Homo sapiens: one gene and its partners. The protein of the gene in region 4 interacts with the protein of the main gene of each other region in a biochemical or structural test. Each region holds a gene or a part of one and is shown on either strand. Other genes may lie near its edges.

Region 1 (4,245 bases), on a different chromosome or scaffold from region 4:
TACTGTGTGTGAATCCATTCAACATATACACTTTTTAACACCAAACCGAGTCCTGTCTAAATATACACAGTGCTCAGGGAAAGACGTCTCTGACCCCGACAAATCTGCGTAAATCACACTTCCATAGTTACAGAAGCCTCACAAAGGGAGGCCCGGCTCAAGATGCTGATTACAGCTTCTTAAAAGCAACATACCTAAGAATAAATACCCATGCCTGGCCTAGGGGCTGTGGTGGCCAGAGGCAGAGAGGGCCCTCTGTGTTCTATGGGCCTTTTGGCGTCTGTTTTAGGCTTTCGATGTTACTTTCCCTAGAGAAATTAGACAGTTTAAAAATAATAATGGTAATTATTATTATTTTACAATACGAGCAAACAAGCAATTTTCAGGCCTTATTCACTTCATCCGGGTGGCTGGCCTCCAAAGTTTGAGTGCCCTCTGGGGCTGGCAGGCAGGACCAGAGCTCCTTCTGTTGTGTGGTGAGGAGTGGGCATCTGTAGGACTTTTCTGGGTCCAGAGGGCTCTTGGGCTTCTCGGCTCCCGCAGCTCCTCCACCACTCCTCAGAGAGGCAGCTGAATTCTGGGAAGAAACAAAGAGTTGAGTTGCTTCTTAAGATGGAAAGAAGTGTACTGTTTGGACTGTTATTTTAAAATACAGGGTGGTGGGGGAAATCGAGGCTCCTTGGCCGGGGAGGGAGTAAAGAGAAGCCTAATTGATGAAGAGGGAGTTGAGGTGAATGCGGTCCATGGGCACCGATGGGGGAGGCAAGAGCGGCCTCCAGCACCCTGGGAATTGGGCTCAGGCTCCCTGGCGCCAGATACCCTCGGAATCCGGGATCCCCGGCTGGCGCCACGGCCCGCTGGGCCAAGGTCGGTGCTTGGTGGGCCCCATGATCTCATCTCTCCTTTCTTCCTTGCCACTATTAGTGCTCACATAGGCAGAAAGAGGCGGCCCGACGTGCAAACCATGTGCAAACCGCGCCCGCTGGGCTGGTCAGCCGTCTTTCCTTGCCTGCCGACCTGGACTATGTGGAGCCTGGGGGACCCTCTTGCCTCCCAACAAAATCCCCTCTCTAATTGCACATCCCATTCAACAACTCTGCCCAGGGCTTTTCGAATTTCTGGATCAACTTCTTTAGGAAAAAGGGAAGAAGAAGTCTCAGAGACAGCGGTAGAGAAAAGAGGAGAGAGAGGGAGAAGAGAGAAGAGAGGAGGGGGAGGTAGCGAGATTAAGAGTTGCAAAGATAAAAAAAATTCTCTTTATCCCCCCACTTCTCCCTCCTTCCCTGCTCTCCCCCTCCCCCCGCCCTCTGGCTAAGTGGTAAAACCGTCCTTACGTTCTCGGTATTGATTGGCAGGGCTGACAGTGATTGGCAGTGGTTGCCGTGGCAACGCCACAACGACACGCCACAGACCAATAGAAAAGCGAAACAAAATGTTTCAATGCTGCACTCACTGTGGATTTAGGGGAGATATTATGAGGCTGTTGTCATTAGGGCGATTGCGGTGGAATCGCTGAATCTTGACTCGGCGGTGGTTGGCTCTCCCTCTCCTCTCTCCCTCTCCCTCTCCCTCTCTGTCTCGGGTTCTCTCTCTGCGCGCGCGCACCGGGCCGCTCTCCTACCTCCCTCTCTATGTGGCTGCGCGGGTGTGTGTGTGTGTGGATGTGTGTGGGGTGTGGGTGTCCCTTACGCCCTTCCTCCTCTCCCTCCTCCTCCTGCTCCCCCCTCCTTTCCTTCTCCTCCTCCCCCCTCTCCTCTCCCTCCTCCTGGTCCTCATCGCCCCTCTCCTCCTCTTCCTCCCCTCTCTCTTCCTCTCCCTGAATTTTCTCCTCTCCTCTCAGGTCAGTCCATGGTATTCCGCTCCCCCCTAGACCTCTATTCCTCCCACTTCTTGTTGCCAAACTTCGCCGATTCTCACCACCGCTCCATACTTCTGGCGAGTAGCGGCGGCGGGAACGGTGCGGGAGGCGGCGGCGGCGCGGGAGGCGGCAGCGGCGGCGGGAACGGTGCGGGAGGCGGCGGTGCTGGCGGAGCAGGCGGCGGCGGCGGCGGCGGCTCCAGGGCCCCCCCGGAAGAGTTGTCCATGTTCCAGCTGCCCACCCTCAACTTCTCGCCGGAGCAGGTGGCCAGCGTCTGTGAGACGCTGGAGGAGACGGGCGACATCGAGCGGCTGGGCCGCTTCCTCTGGTCGCTGCCCGTGGCCCCCGGGGCGTGCGAGGCCATCAACAAACACGAGTCGATCCTGCGCGCGCGCGCCGTGGTCGCCTTCCACACGGGCAACTTCCGCGACCTCTACCACATCCTTGAGAACCACAAGTTCACCAAGGAGTCTCACGGCAAGCTGCAGGCCATGTGGCTCGAGGCGCACTACCAGGAGGCCGAGAAGCTGCGCGGCCGCCCACTCGGCCCGGTGGACAAGTACCGCGTGCGCAAGAAGTTCCCGCTGCCACGCACCATCTGGGACGGCGAGCAGAAGACGCATTGCTTCAAGGAGCGGACTCGGAGCCTGTTGCGGGAGTGGTACCTACAGGACCCCTACCCCAACCCCAGCAAGAAACGCGAACTGGCGCAGGCCACCGGCCTCACTCCCACACAAGTAGGCAACTGGTTTAAGAACCGGCGGCAGCGCGACCGCGCCGCGGCGGCCAAGAACAGGTTAGTGGCGGGGCCCGCGGCCTGGCTACAGCCTCAGAGGCCTGGGAAGGGGAGAGGGGTTGAGATGGGGCTAGCGGAGCGGCCGCTGAGAGCCAGGGAAGCCGTGACTCCTGGCCAGTCGGAGAAAGTTTCCGCTTGTCCGGGACGCGCGGAAGAGGGGGCCGGGCTGGCTGTGGGTGTATTGATTGCTTTGACCAAGAGGGGCTTTCGTCAGGGCAGAGAGTGTGTGCTTGCGACCCGAGTACCCGCAGCCCCTGGGAGACTTAGCCCTGCGCTGCACCCGTGCCTGCCTCCTCAGCCCTGCCGCCAGCTCGGCGATCCTCTGGAGCCTAGAGACAGGGAGGGAAGGAAAGCACTCTTTGCCATCTGGTTCTTATTTCTGTGCGTTGCAAAACCCCGAGAGAAATCCACTAGCGTCAGAGAGAGGAAAGTGAACCTGGGTCCCTATCACAAGGGGAAAAGGCCAGAGGCCACTGCGCAGCGGGCCTGTTTCCCCGCAACGCTGCACGTTGCCTGACCGGGAGCAGGAGAGCCGGGCTGGGAGTGGAGAGGCCTAGCGTGTGCGTGTGCGTGTGTGTGTGCACGCCCGTGTGCATGTACTCGCCCTCCTGTTTCAGCCGAGGAGAATCCCTTTGGTCCTCTAAGCTGGGAAGCGGGCACGAGCAGCCTCGTTGCCGGCAAGTTGGCCACAAAGTCACAAAATTGTATAGGGCTTGACCAACATCACAGGAGCTGGGCCTGGGGGAAGGAGAAAAAGAACCAGAGGGAAAGAAGTGGATAGGCGAAAGGAGTGGGGAGAGAAGGGAGAAAGAAAAGAGGAAGTTGGGTGAAAGCCCTGATGTGGAGCCTGTGTCTTTCTCTATCCAGCCAGGAAGGCCCAGGGCCTGGTGTACTTCAGGGAGCAGGACCCCCAGCTGCTGACAGCTGCCCGTGGGTGGGGGCTGGGTGTGAGTTTCTGGAGGTGTGTTCGAGTTTAGGCGGCCGGGACCTGAGCCCATGGCCCTCTCACCCCTGCCGTGGAGCCCACTTTTCGTCTGATGAGGGGAGCGCCCAGGGTCAAGCCAAGGCCTCCTTGTGGAGAGAATTCCAGACACCAGGTCCAGGCAGAAGGTTCCCGGTGGGGGAAAGGGCAGCTGGAGACTGCTCTGTGCGCCTCTCTTGCCTTCTCCTTTGCCCCTTTTCTGTCTCCCTGCTCTTTCCCCACTTTTCCACCGCCAGCTTTCCTATTTTCTCTACCCTCGGTCCTGCGCTCTGCGCTGGCATCCAGAGAGCAAAGTATGCAGTTCTACCCGGAGACTGGCCGGGCGGTGGGGAACCCGCAGCTCCCGGTGTGTGTTTGAGGGAGCAGGGACGGGGTTACTAGGGGAACTCGACCGGTCGCGGGGCAGCCGGCTCAGTTTGAAGAGCCCCAGGGACTGCGGAGGGAAGAAGCGCCCGGCTCCTCTCCGACTTCTGCTTCTCCAGGGCTTGGCGTACTTTGTCGCTTGCACCCAGGCCTCCCCAAGCGGCCGGGCTCGGGTTCTGCCTCTCCTCCGAGGCCAGCCTCTATCTGAGAAGACTTGGGATGCTCCCGAAAGCGGAATGGGGAGCG
Region 2 (4,291 bases), on a different chromosome or scaffold from region 4:
AAACTGGCAGTGTAATGTTGAGGAAGTTACTACCTAGGCCTTTACTTTTTCAAGGAGGCTGGATTCTGATCTATGAGTTATTTTCCACCAGAAACCTTTCAGCGATAGGGAGTTTGGCTGCACAGTCACTGTTCCAAAATACAGAAACTGTGGGGTTTTTTCCCTACCAAACTAAAAGTGTGGGGAGAATAAATAATGGTGGAGGGAGTCAAATCAGGAACAGTGCTATGATCTCAAGGAGCAGATCATTTCTGATATTGTCAGGGTCCTCTTTGCTGATTCTAGTTTGTTGTTCATTTTACTTTCCTTCAAACAATTTAGACTGTCACTCTTCATGTAATAAGCCTTCAGCAAATGCACAACTCTCATCGAAGTTTAGAAAACTAGGGTATACCCCTTAATCTAAAAAAGTTGAAATTGCTTTATTATTATACTTTAAGTTTTAGGGTACATGTGCACAACGTGCAGGTTACATATGTATACATGTGCCATGTTGGTGTGCTGCACCCATTAACTCGTCATTTAACATTAGGTATATCTCCTAATGCTATCCCTCCCCCCTCCCCCCTGAAATTGCTTTTTACAAAAAGCAAGCTAGGGTAAAATAAATTGAAAAGATTTCATGTCAATGTAATTATTCTTTAGGATGCAAAGATCGCCAGGTAAGGACCTGAGGTTTCCAAATTACGAAGCTCCTCAATCATAAAGTCGAGTCTTTATTTACTTATTTATTTTTATTTATTTATTTTTGAGACGGAGTCTTGCTCTGTCGCCCAGGGTGGAGTGCAGTGGCGCGATCTCAACCTCCACCTCCAGGGTTCAAGCAATTCTCTGCCTCAGCCTCTGGAGTAGCTGGGATTACAGGCACCCACCACCATGCCCAGCTAATTTTTGTATTTTTAGTAGAGACGGGGTTTCACCACCTTGTGCAGGCTGGTCTTGAACTCCTGACTTCGTGATCCACCTGCCTCGGCCTCCCAAAGTGCTGGAATTACAGGCGTGAGCCACCGCACCCAGCTCGAGTCTTTATTTTTGAGGGATTAAGTGAAAGATCCTTGGTGTCAAGGAGTGTCTGTTGTACGAAACTGGAAAGTAGAGAGACTTACAGAACAGGCTTCTACAAAATATGAGGATTTCAGATGCATGAGAAAGTGGATGAAGGGCAGTTAGGAGACTGAGTTTACAGATCTAAAGGAGCATAACCTTTTTTTTAAGTCAGGCGAGGTGAGCGCTGGTGGCAATGAATCTGGTTTTTATTTTGTGTTTTAGCTCAGAATCATTGTGGGCTGTAACGAGAGATACACAACATGATTAAGGAAAATGTTAGACTAGATTAATAGGTGGGAGAAATAGAAGAGATTCTCAAAGTGGCTTTCCCCACACACCAAAGGACACAAGAAGTTTTCAGAATCTCTAGAAACTATGTTCATTTATAAAATGGGATTAATCCATACCAATATATACATTAGAGTTCTGTGGTTAGAATCCTAGAGTCCAGCATTTATTTACAAAGTGGCAATAAATGTAAAATAACCTAGAAACTTCTTCTACAAAACGAACACTCAAATTGATAATATTCTGAGAAATATCACACATTCTGCAAGAAAAAACCACCATCTTACAAAACACTGCGTACTGTGATAGCACCTAGTATTTGGTGGGCTTTCTAAACCCTGACCAAATATACCGCCTCATTTAATCAATGCACTTAAAAAAAAAAAGCCTAAGTATAACTTATTTTCTGGTGCTAACCACAATTTTTAAAAAGTGTATTTCAAGTTGGTGCTTCCGTTCCAAGTAAACCAAGTTTCATTTCTTATGCAAACTTCCGGTTGAAGGTAGGATTCGTTCTCTTGGACTGCCACACCCAAAAGTTCTCACCACTGGACAAAGACAATTAGCTGTGAGGGCTGACTTGCCAGTAAAGCCTCGCTTTTGAAAATAGAGTGCTTTTCTGATTACCGTTTATTAGAGCCCTTCCAGAACATGAAACAAATACCAATAATTTTAAGAAATATTCGCTTTATTCGCCTTTAAATATGAAACTTTTTGCACTTAAGTTAAAATCTCTGCTAAATCCATAGGTCTCTCAAGAACTGACAGATACATTCATATACCTACTAAACTACTTTAAAAAGAAGACACTTCCATGGCGAATTGAATTAGCCCAAACTTTCCCCCCAAATGGGACAAGGTATTACATTTTGGAGTTTTTCTTCGAGTCACAAACTAAACTCCAGATCTCTCTGTCCAAAATTTCATCGCTTAAAGAAAAAAAGTTCTAATTACAGGAGCGGATACTGAGCTGAAGAACTTCCCAATTTGAGTTGGTTATTCCTACTAAACGCAGCCACACAGCTGCAACAACAGCTGCAGCAGGGGGACAACGGGCTACGTTTTTGCGCAAACCCTCTTGAATCGGGCAAGTTGACGTTAGAAACTAAAATAGTCCCGGAGTCAGCTCTGCAGGGGTCGGGTTTCGCGGGCCCGGCAGTCGCCCAAGCTCAAGGCGCCAGTGAGCGAAGCCACATTTCCAGAGTTCCAAGTTTGGGCACAGGAGCGAAGTTCGGGTCTGGGCCACTCCAAGCCATGGCCTCGGATCCCAGAACCGGGGACCTGGCTGGCACACCTGCCCAGGTGCGCTACCGGCGCCAGGAGCCCCGCCGCCCTCCAGCTGCCCCCGCGGAGACGGGTCCCCGGGATGGGTCTCACGCGCCCGAACGCGAGCGCCACTCACCCGGCACAGCTACGAGAATCCGAGCACCTCTCCGAGCCCCTCGCTGCCGCTATCACACCACCCTGCTACCCAGAGAGCCGCTAAAAACCACCGCTTCCGGCCTCTGCTTAGCAAGCCGGAAGGAAGCCCGGTCACCTTTCTTGGCCCGCAGAGTGGGTCTGACTTCACGGAGGGGCGACAGAGAGGGAAGTCGCCAGTGTGGTCAGCGGGCGTGGTATTGACCAAGTGCATGAGAAGGAAGTGTAAAGTGGGCGACCTAGAATATAGAGCAATATATAATGGTCCTCTGGGTCCTGTTACTGAGTTTCCTTCTTTTTTGTACCTGTTGTTGCAGTGTTAAGTCTTCCTCCCCCCTATCCTTTCCGCAGATGGTTGCGTCCGTCCTGTGGCTTTGCCTGGCCGCACATTCCAGGGCACGGCGAAGGGCGGGGCCCGTCGGCCCAAGTCCTTGTAGGGAAATCGAGGAGAGGGCTGCGGGCCCACGTGACTGACCCTCGCCCCGCCCCGAAGCCGGGCTCCAGCTTGTGGGCGGTAGTGCGCCTGCGCTTGACGCCCCGCGCGGGGTCTGGGTCTCCGCCTGAGGGCCCCGGAGCAGTGCGCGTATCCCGGGAGCGGATCTTGATGCTAGCTCTGTGTGCAGTGTAATTTTATTAAGAGTCCCGCCCCCTCCATACGGGAGGAAACGTGTGTCCCTGGGGCCCTCAGCCAAGCCTCCACTATCTTTTTGGCCCAGACGGATTTCCCAGGTCACAAGTGGCTGGAGACTTCCTCTTGAAAAACATTTGCCGTCGTTTTTCCCTGGCAGAGCCCCTTTGACCCTGGCTAACAAGGACAGCCTGACTTGGATCCCACTATGCAGGAAGGAAGGCGACTCTTCCCCGCACCTCTTGCTACGATTAGGACTTGCGACTTGGTGAAAACAGGAATCAAAACTTGGGCCTATTTCTCCTGAGGTCTGCTTGCCTAGAACAATTCGTAACGATGAATCTTATTAAAAAGAGAAAGTCCTCCCCGACTTTATCTTTTTCCGCCCAGAATCCGATAAGGAAGACTTGTTCTGGCCCCCTCAGCTCTCTGACCTCACCTACCAGAGGAGAGAGTGGGATCCTCTAACACTCGAGCCGTCATCCCAGCACTAGGGGACAGTGACCAGTGTGGCTCCCGTGGCCAGAACCCTTCTGAAGTTTGGGTTGCCCTGTGGTCTTCGCCTTCAAAGCAGGCCGCCACTTGAATCCTTCTGGAACGGACAGTGTTGCTGTAAACGCCGCGGAATAGTATCTTCTAAGTATTCGTAGCTTCTTTCTTGAGGGATCTCGGGAACGTTCCGTGTATTAACCACTAACGTATTCCAAAGTTAACTTCGTGGTAAAGTCGCTGGGGAAAAAAATAACTGCTCCAGTTCCACAGGTGATTGAAACAAAAGTGATCTGTTTCCCAAACTTCCTTGATGGTAAAGAATGACTTGGGGTACTAATTAAAAATAAAAATAATTGCGTCATTTCCAACCTACTAAATCGGAGTCTTTAAGGGCAGGTCCTGGGAAGCCATCCATGT
Region 3 (3,563 bases), on a different chromosome or scaffold from region 4:
ACCTGAGCTTTTAACTGCTATGCTGTAGTCTTCCTCTAAACAGCTTTGCTCTGAGCAAAAGCCCCTTCCTCCCTTTCTTATAGGGGTGGGGGGCTTGGGGAGGTTAGGCTTATTTATGTCCCCCAAGAACAGGCATGATGAAGCTGGCCACAGGAGATACATGCAAAGCCCTTTCTGAGTGAGTGGCATGCCACTTCTCCTGGATAGCTGTAGCATCCAGGAGATATGTAGATCTGGCCCCTCAACCTAAAGGCTATGGCATCTCTGCCACCTGTCCTTAAATCCATCAGCACTGCCCTCAGTGACCCCTCTATAGAGAGGTAGCTCACCCTCCAAGGCTGGCCTGGCAGAGGGAGGTCTCCTAGCTCTGGAGGAACCAGGTGCACTGGACATGCCAATCTGGGGTAAAATCAAGCCAATGCCTCAACACTTCTGGAAAGCATCTCAGGGGCTGGCCTAACTAAAACCCAAAGCGGGACGGCACAAGGTCAGACGCAAGCAGCACTGGGGAGTAGGCAGATGGTCTCTGGGGCTCCTCAAAGCATTTCCCATAGGCACTGCCCACAGCCCTCCTGAGGGATGAGAGAGACTCAACCTCACTGGCCACCCAGTCCGTCTTCTTCAACTGCTGAAACCCTACTCGTGCTTAAAGGGCCAGGCCAAGTTCGACCTCCTCCTCAGTGTCAGAGGGGGTCTTTCCCTCTCCTGCAAGCCATTATTCAGGTGGCAGACATCTAGCACACAGTGGCCAGCCCAGGATTTCTTTGTTCCAGGTACGTGCCATTTTTCTCCTTTGTTGAGCTCCTCAAGGGCAGAGGAATTGCCCCTTGAGCTGAGTCTCAAAGGTCAAAAAGTTACCCTGGTACAGAGAAGAGACAGGGATGCCAATCACGAGATCCAGAGTGTGTGTGCAAAGCATGCTGTTTTTAGGGGACTCAACGGGCAAGTGGGGAGAGACAAGGCTGGTGAGACAAGACCTTGAAGGAAAAAGCTAAGGAATGTGCACTTGTAATCCAGAGTCCCAGCCTCATCCTCACCCTACTAAATTCTGCTCCAATCTCTGAGAGCAGGGCCTGCTCATGTGCACTTCTCTACTGCACACCACACCATACACTACTCTGATGCACTGCTGGTTAGGAGTAGTGTGGGACAGAGAGTGCGCTGACCAGTAAGGAGTTTAGATGAACCATTAAGGAGCTCGATGCAGGTGTCTACCACAAACAGGGATGGCCTGAACTGAGGCAGTGGGAGTGGCAGTGGCATTGGGAGTGGGAGTGGGGATGGAGAGAAGACAGGCAGAGAAGAGAGACTGAAGGCATAGTTCAGCAGAATCCGCCAGGTGACTAGACAAGGGAGGAAGAGCCGAGAAGGGCTCCGCTGGCGTTTTTTCCTTGAGCAACTGAGTAGACAAGTGAACCATTAACTAAGGTGGGACAGGAGGAGATGCATGGGGCCAGAGGGAGAGAGTCACAGGAGGAGCTAAGACTCAGATGCCTACAGATCTATGTGCCGTTCCCAAGAAAACTCTGGAAGTGGTTGGAGTCTGGCTCAGGAGGAACGTCTCTGTGGCTCTCTAATGTGCACAGTGTGTGCAGTGTGTGTGCAGTGTGAAGCTGCAAAGAAATGTGGCTCTCACATTTACTGCTGTAGCAAAGAATATAGAAATATCTTAAACGTAATAAATGTTCCAATAAAATGAGAATACTTTCAAGTGTCCTCTTATAATAAAATTTTAAAGCAACAGTCTCCTAATTTAGAGTTTTAACAAGATCAGAAAAGGCCCCAGTACCCTGAGACAAGAGTTTTTGTCTCAGGGTTTTCTTTTTTTTTTTTTTTTTTTGAGACGGAGTCTCGCACTGGAATGCAATGACACAATCTTGGCTCACCGCAACCTCTGCCTCCCGGGTTCAAGCAATTCTCCTGCCTCAGCCTCCCGAGTAGCTGGGATTACAGGCACCCACCACCACGCCCAGCTAATTTTTTGGATTTTTAGTAGAGACGGGGGTTTCACTATGTTGGCCAGGCTGGTCTCGAACTCCTGACCTCATGATCCGCCCACCTCGGCCTCCCAAAGAGCTGGGATTACAGGTGTGAGTCACCACGCCTGGCCTGCCTCAGAGTTTTCTAGTAAATACCTTAAAAGGTCCCAAATGTTGCAATAATTGAGTATACTCCTTCCCATCACCTGTCCCAAACATTTACAAAGAATACCATTAAGGGAGGCTGAAACAGTCCCAACTTACTGGAATGCATGAATTTAGAAAAAAAGACGCAACGTTTTTCTCAATTCACAAAGCCTCAGTGGATTCAGGACATTTACACTGGCATAACATCACATATAAAACTCCCCTCACCTCCTGAAACATGTGACATACTCATTGCTCTATCTCCTTAATCACCCAACCTCAGAATCTAAACCTATACTCAAAAGCAAACTACCTCACTGCTTAATACAACGAAACCCAAGGAATGAACTTTTAGAGGTTCCTCCTACTATGACTATGAACTGGGAGAAAATATAACAATATGAAGTTCTGAGTGAACATTTTTAAATAGCATTAGGCTGGGCGCAGTGGCTCACACCTGTAATCCCAGCACTTCGGGAGGCCTCGGCGGGCAGATCACCTGAGGTTAGGAGTTAGAGACCAGCATGGCAAACATGGTGAAACCTCCTTTCTAATACAAAATTAGCAGGGAGTGGTGGTGCACACCTATAGTATCAGCTACTTGGGAGGCTGAGGCAGGAGAATCGCTTGAACCTGGGAGGCAGAGGTTGTAGTGCACAGAGATCGTGCCATCGCGCTGAAGCCTGGGCAACAAGAGTGAAACTCCTTAACTCAACAGTTATGTCATGATAAGTAATAAGACATTACACACACACCCCTCTAAATCCACAGATTTCCCCTCTGAGAAAAGCCCTTCTGGGAAGCTACTCAACAGGAGGGCCCTTAGGGGAAATGTGTGCAGTGTGAAGCTGCAAAGAAATGATCAGATGGCAATCAGTTGCCTAAGCCACACATAAAGGTTTCACTTTTGGCTTTTGCAGCAATTTCCCCATCCTGATTGAAGCAATGGTTACAATCTGGTTGTAGCCAACAATGCTAAATTAGCTGCTTGCAAATTAAAATGTACTTAATGTTTTATTAACACTGTAATTCCTAAAAAGGCTTCTAAAAGAGGTTAAGCCTCCTGGCAAGTGCTTTTGAAATAAAAGACTTTATCATACTCACTTTGCCTAAAATAACTTCTCAGTGTAGTATATGTAAATCACTCTACTTTTAATAATGTGTTTTACACTATCTGCAGACAGTCCATTGTTACAAAGAAATCTTTGCTGTGGAATGTCCTAGAAAACATTTTTAACAGAAATCTAAAGTTCTTTAAGATGTAATTAATTTGATCATTCAACATTTGCTAGATTGCTATGCCTAAGGCACTGTTCCATGCACTAAGCCCCAACTTTTCACCAACGAAAATCACTTTATTACCACCCTATGTACTGAAAAGACTGTTTATCAACTTGTATCAATAATTTTTCTTCCTTTAAAAGAAAAAAAAAACAG
Region 4 (3,563 bases):
TGTGCTTTTTAAATTTAACATGTCTTGGGATTTAATTCATGGTAGTACATAAGGAACTTCCTGTATCCTTTTTAAAGGCTGCGTAGTGTTCTGTTCTGTAGATGCATTATAATATTTTTGACCAGTCACTTACTGATGGACTTTTAGGTGGTTTCTAACCCTTTGCTATTATAAGCAATGTGCAGTACCTTTTATGTACCTCATTTCACTCATGTATCTGTGGGACACATTCCTAGAAGGTCCTTGCCACATCAGAGGATGTTGATAAGTGAATTGTCAAATTACGTTCTAACAAGATTTCACCGGTTTAAACTCCCACCTGCAATATGTGGCTCTTTTCCTGCACGGTGCACTTCGTCAACATAGTGTTACCAAATTTTTAAATCCTTTTCATTGTTAGGGGAAAAATTGTTTACTTAACCTAGTTTTAATTTGCATTTCTCTTATTTATGCATCTTTTCCTGTGTTTAAGACATATTTCTATTTTTTGTAAATGGTATTCATTTTCTTTCTCCATTTTTTTCCTATTAAGTTGTCTTAATGATTTTGGGGAGCTTTTTATGTATTAGGGAAATTAGCCTCTGTCTGTGATATGAGTTGCAAATAGTTTTTCGCACTCTGTCATTTGTCTTTTTGTTCTTTCTCCTGTGGTCTTTGCTATGAAAGAATTTTAGATTTTTACATAGTTAAATTTGTTACGATTTTCTTATATGCCCTTTGGATTTTGGGTCATAACTGGGAAAGTCTTTCCCACTCTGAGGTTAAAAAGAATTCTCCCATAGTTTAGAATAGTACTTTCATAGTTTCACTTTATTTATTTATTTATTTTTTGAGACTGGGTCTCACTCTGTCGCCCAGGCTGGAGTGCAGTGCTATGATCATGTTTCACTGCAGCCTCAACCTCCCAGGCTCAAGCGATCCTCCTGAGTAGCTGGGACCACAGCTGTGTACCACTATGCCTGGCTAATTTTTTATTTTTTGTAGAGACAGGGTCTCACTTTGTTGCCCGGGCTGGTCTCGAACTCCTGGACTCAAGCAACCCTCCTGCCTCGACCACCCAAAGTGTTGAGATTACAGATGTAAGCTACTGCACCCAGCTCATAGTTTGACTTAAAAAAAAAATTAAATCTTGGCTTCATCTGAAATTTATATTGAAATAAGGGTAGGAGGCTATGGATCCAACTTTATATTTCCCTTGTGATTACCTAGTTGTACCCAAACCATTGATTAATTATACATCTTTTCTCCACTGATTTAAAATGCCACTTTCTTTCCATATACTAAATTCCCATATGTATTTGGGTCTATTCCTAGACATTTGGTTCTGGTCCACTGATCTCCCTGTTCACATGTTGATGCCTCATTGTTTTAGTTGGTATATTTTAAAATCTGGTAGGATTTTTCACTCATAATTAATTTTCTTTTTATAAGTTTCCTTATATGTTGTCTTTTTTAAAAAAAACAAAATGAATGTTAGAATCAATGTGTCTAGTTCAAAGGAAATCCTATTGAGGTTTTTTTTTTTGTTTTTTTTTTTTTTTTTTTGAGACAGAGTCTTGCTCTGTTGCCCTGTTGCCCAGGCTGGAGTGCAGTGGTGCAACCTCTGCCTCCCGGGTTCAAGCGATTCTCCTGCCTCAGCCTCCCGAGTAGCTGGGATTACAGGCGCTCGCCACTACCCTTGGCTAATGTTTGTATTTTTAGTAGAGACGGGGTTTCACCGTGTTGGCCAGGCTGGTCTTGAACTCCTGACCTCAAGTGATCTGCTTAACTTGGTCTCCCAAAGTGCTGGGGTTACAGGCGTGAGCCACCGTGCCCGGCCCTATTGAGTTTTTTAAAATTGGAATCTCATTAAATTAATAGAGTAATTTAAGGAAAAGCTGACATCTTTTTGATGTTGAGTCTTTTATTATTTAATTGACTTTGTGATCCACAGGAACATTTTCTTCATATAGATCTTGCCCACTTTTTGTTGAGTTTATTCTTAGGAGGTGTTTTGTGTTTTTTGTGTCTATTGTAAAGAGATCTTTTATGTTTTCTAGTTGGTTATCATTTGTCTGTGAGAGCTGTTAATAACAAGATGTTAATTACATAGGTATCCCACAGAACCCCTCTTTTTTTAAAAGTTAAGGCAAAATTCACATAACATAAAATTAATCATTTAAAAATATATAGTCCAGTGGTACTCAGTACATCTGCAGTGTTTGTTGTACAACCACTTCTTCTGTCTAGTCCCAAAATATTTTCATCACCCCAAAAGAAAACCTCATATCCATTAAGCAGTGACTCCCAATTCCCCCTCTCCCCTAGCAGTCACCAATCTGCCCTTCTTCTCTATGAATTTGCCTATTCTGGACATTTTATGTAAATGGAATTATATGTGACTTTTTCTTTGTGGCTTCTTTCCCTCAGTATAATGTTTTTGAGAGTCATTCATGGTGTAGCATGTATCAGTACTTCATTCTTTTTTATGGCTGAATAATATTCCATTGTTTGGAGAGATGATTTTTTGTGCACCCATTCATCTGTTAATGAGCATTTAGGTTGTTCCCACCTTTTGGCTATTGAGAATAGTGCTGCTGTGAGTATATGTGTACAGTATTTTTACAAATACCTATTTTCAGTCTTTTTGGATATACCTCGGAGTGGAATTGCTGGGTCATATGATAAACCTAAATTTAACATTTTGAGGAACTGCCAAACGGTTTTCCACAGCAGCTGCACTGTTTTACTTGCCACCGGTAATGTATGAAGGCTCTGCTTTCTCTTCATCCTCTCTGACAAATGTTTTTTTCTTAAATGGTCATCCTAGTTAGTATCTTAAAGTTTTTTTTCGAGACGGAGTCTTGCTCTGTCGCCCAGGCTGGAGTGCAGCGGCACGATCGTGGCTCACTGGCAAGCTCCGCCTCCCGGGTTCACGCCATTCTTCTGCCTCAGCCTCCCGAGTAGCTGGGACTACAGGGACCCACCGCCACGCCCAGCTAAATTTTTGTGTTTTTAGTGGAGACAGGGTTTCATCGTGTTAGCCAGGATGGTCTCGATCTCCTGACCTCGTGATCCACCCACCTCGGCCTCCCAAAGTGCTGGGATTACAGGCATGAGCCACCACGCCCGGCCAGTATCTTAAAGTTTTGAATTGCATTTTCTTAATAGCTAATGACATTGAACATCTTTTCATGTGGTTTTCGGCCATTTGTATATCTTTGGAAAAATGTCTATTCAAGTCTTTTGCCTATTTTTTAATTGGGTTCTGCCTTTTTGAGTTGTAAGAGTTTTTTAATATATTCTAGATGCTAGATTCTTACCCAGGTATATGATTTGCTGTAATTTTTTTGGTTTGCAGTAGTTTTTTGTTGATTCTCTTGTTTCAGTTACAGAATTATATCATCTACAAAGACAGATTACTTTTTTCTTTTTAATTTTATACTTAAAATTTATTTTGGCTAAATACTTTGGCTGTTACCTCCAAAATATTGTTAAGTAATAATGGGGGGAGTGATTATTGTGTTTCTTCCTTTAGTGGGAATGAAGACATCATTCTGTGGATTTACAGTGGTTATTTAACC

Evidence for each region.
Region 1: of the proteins of OTUD3 (region 4) and SIX3, one has a biochemical effect on the other in vitro, tested with the Homo sapiens proteins (one study listed by BioGRID).
Region 2: of the proteins of OTUD3 (region 4) and MYL12A, one has a biochemical effect on the other in vitro, tested with the Homo sapiens proteins (one study listed by BioGRID).
Region 3: of the proteins of OTUD3 (region 4) and UBE2L3, one has a biochemical effect on the other in vitro, tested with the Homo sapiens proteins (one study listed by BioGRID).

What each region holds. Positions count from the first base shown.
Region 1 is NC_000002.12:44,940,257-44,944,501, forward strand, and holds the start of SIX3 (homeobox protein SIX3), read left to right. Parts: upstream 1-1,445; 5' UTR 1,446-1,848; coding exon 1,849-2,654; intron 2,655-4,245. UniProt on the Homo sapiens protein: Transcriptional regulator which can act as both a transcriptional repressor and activator by binding a ATTA homeodomain core recognition sequence on these target genes.
Region 2 is NC_000018.10:3,246,356-3,250,646, reverse strand, and holds the start of MYL12A (myosin regulatory light chain 12A), read right to left. Parts: upstream 2,847-4,291; 5' UTR 2,738-2,846; intron 1,287-2,737; exon of another isoform or gene 1,204-1,286; intron 1,086-1,203; exon of another isoform or gene 1-1,085. UniProt on the Homo sapiens protein: Myosin regulatory subunit that plays an important role in regulation of both smooth muscle and nonmuscle cell contractile activity via its phosphorylation. Implicated in cytokinesis, receptor capping, and cell locomotion.
Region 3 is NC_000022.11:21,570,700-21,574,262, reverse strand, and holds part of UBE2L3 (ubiquitin-conjugating enzyme E2 L3), read right to left. Parts: intron 1-3,563. UniProt on the Homo sapiens protein: Ubiquitin-conjugating enzyme E2 that specifically acts with HECT-type and RBR family E3 ubiquitin-protein ligases.
Region 4 is NC_000001.11:19,899,391-19,902,953, forward strand, and holds part of OTUD3 (OTU domain-containing protein 3), read left to right. Parts: intron 1-3,563.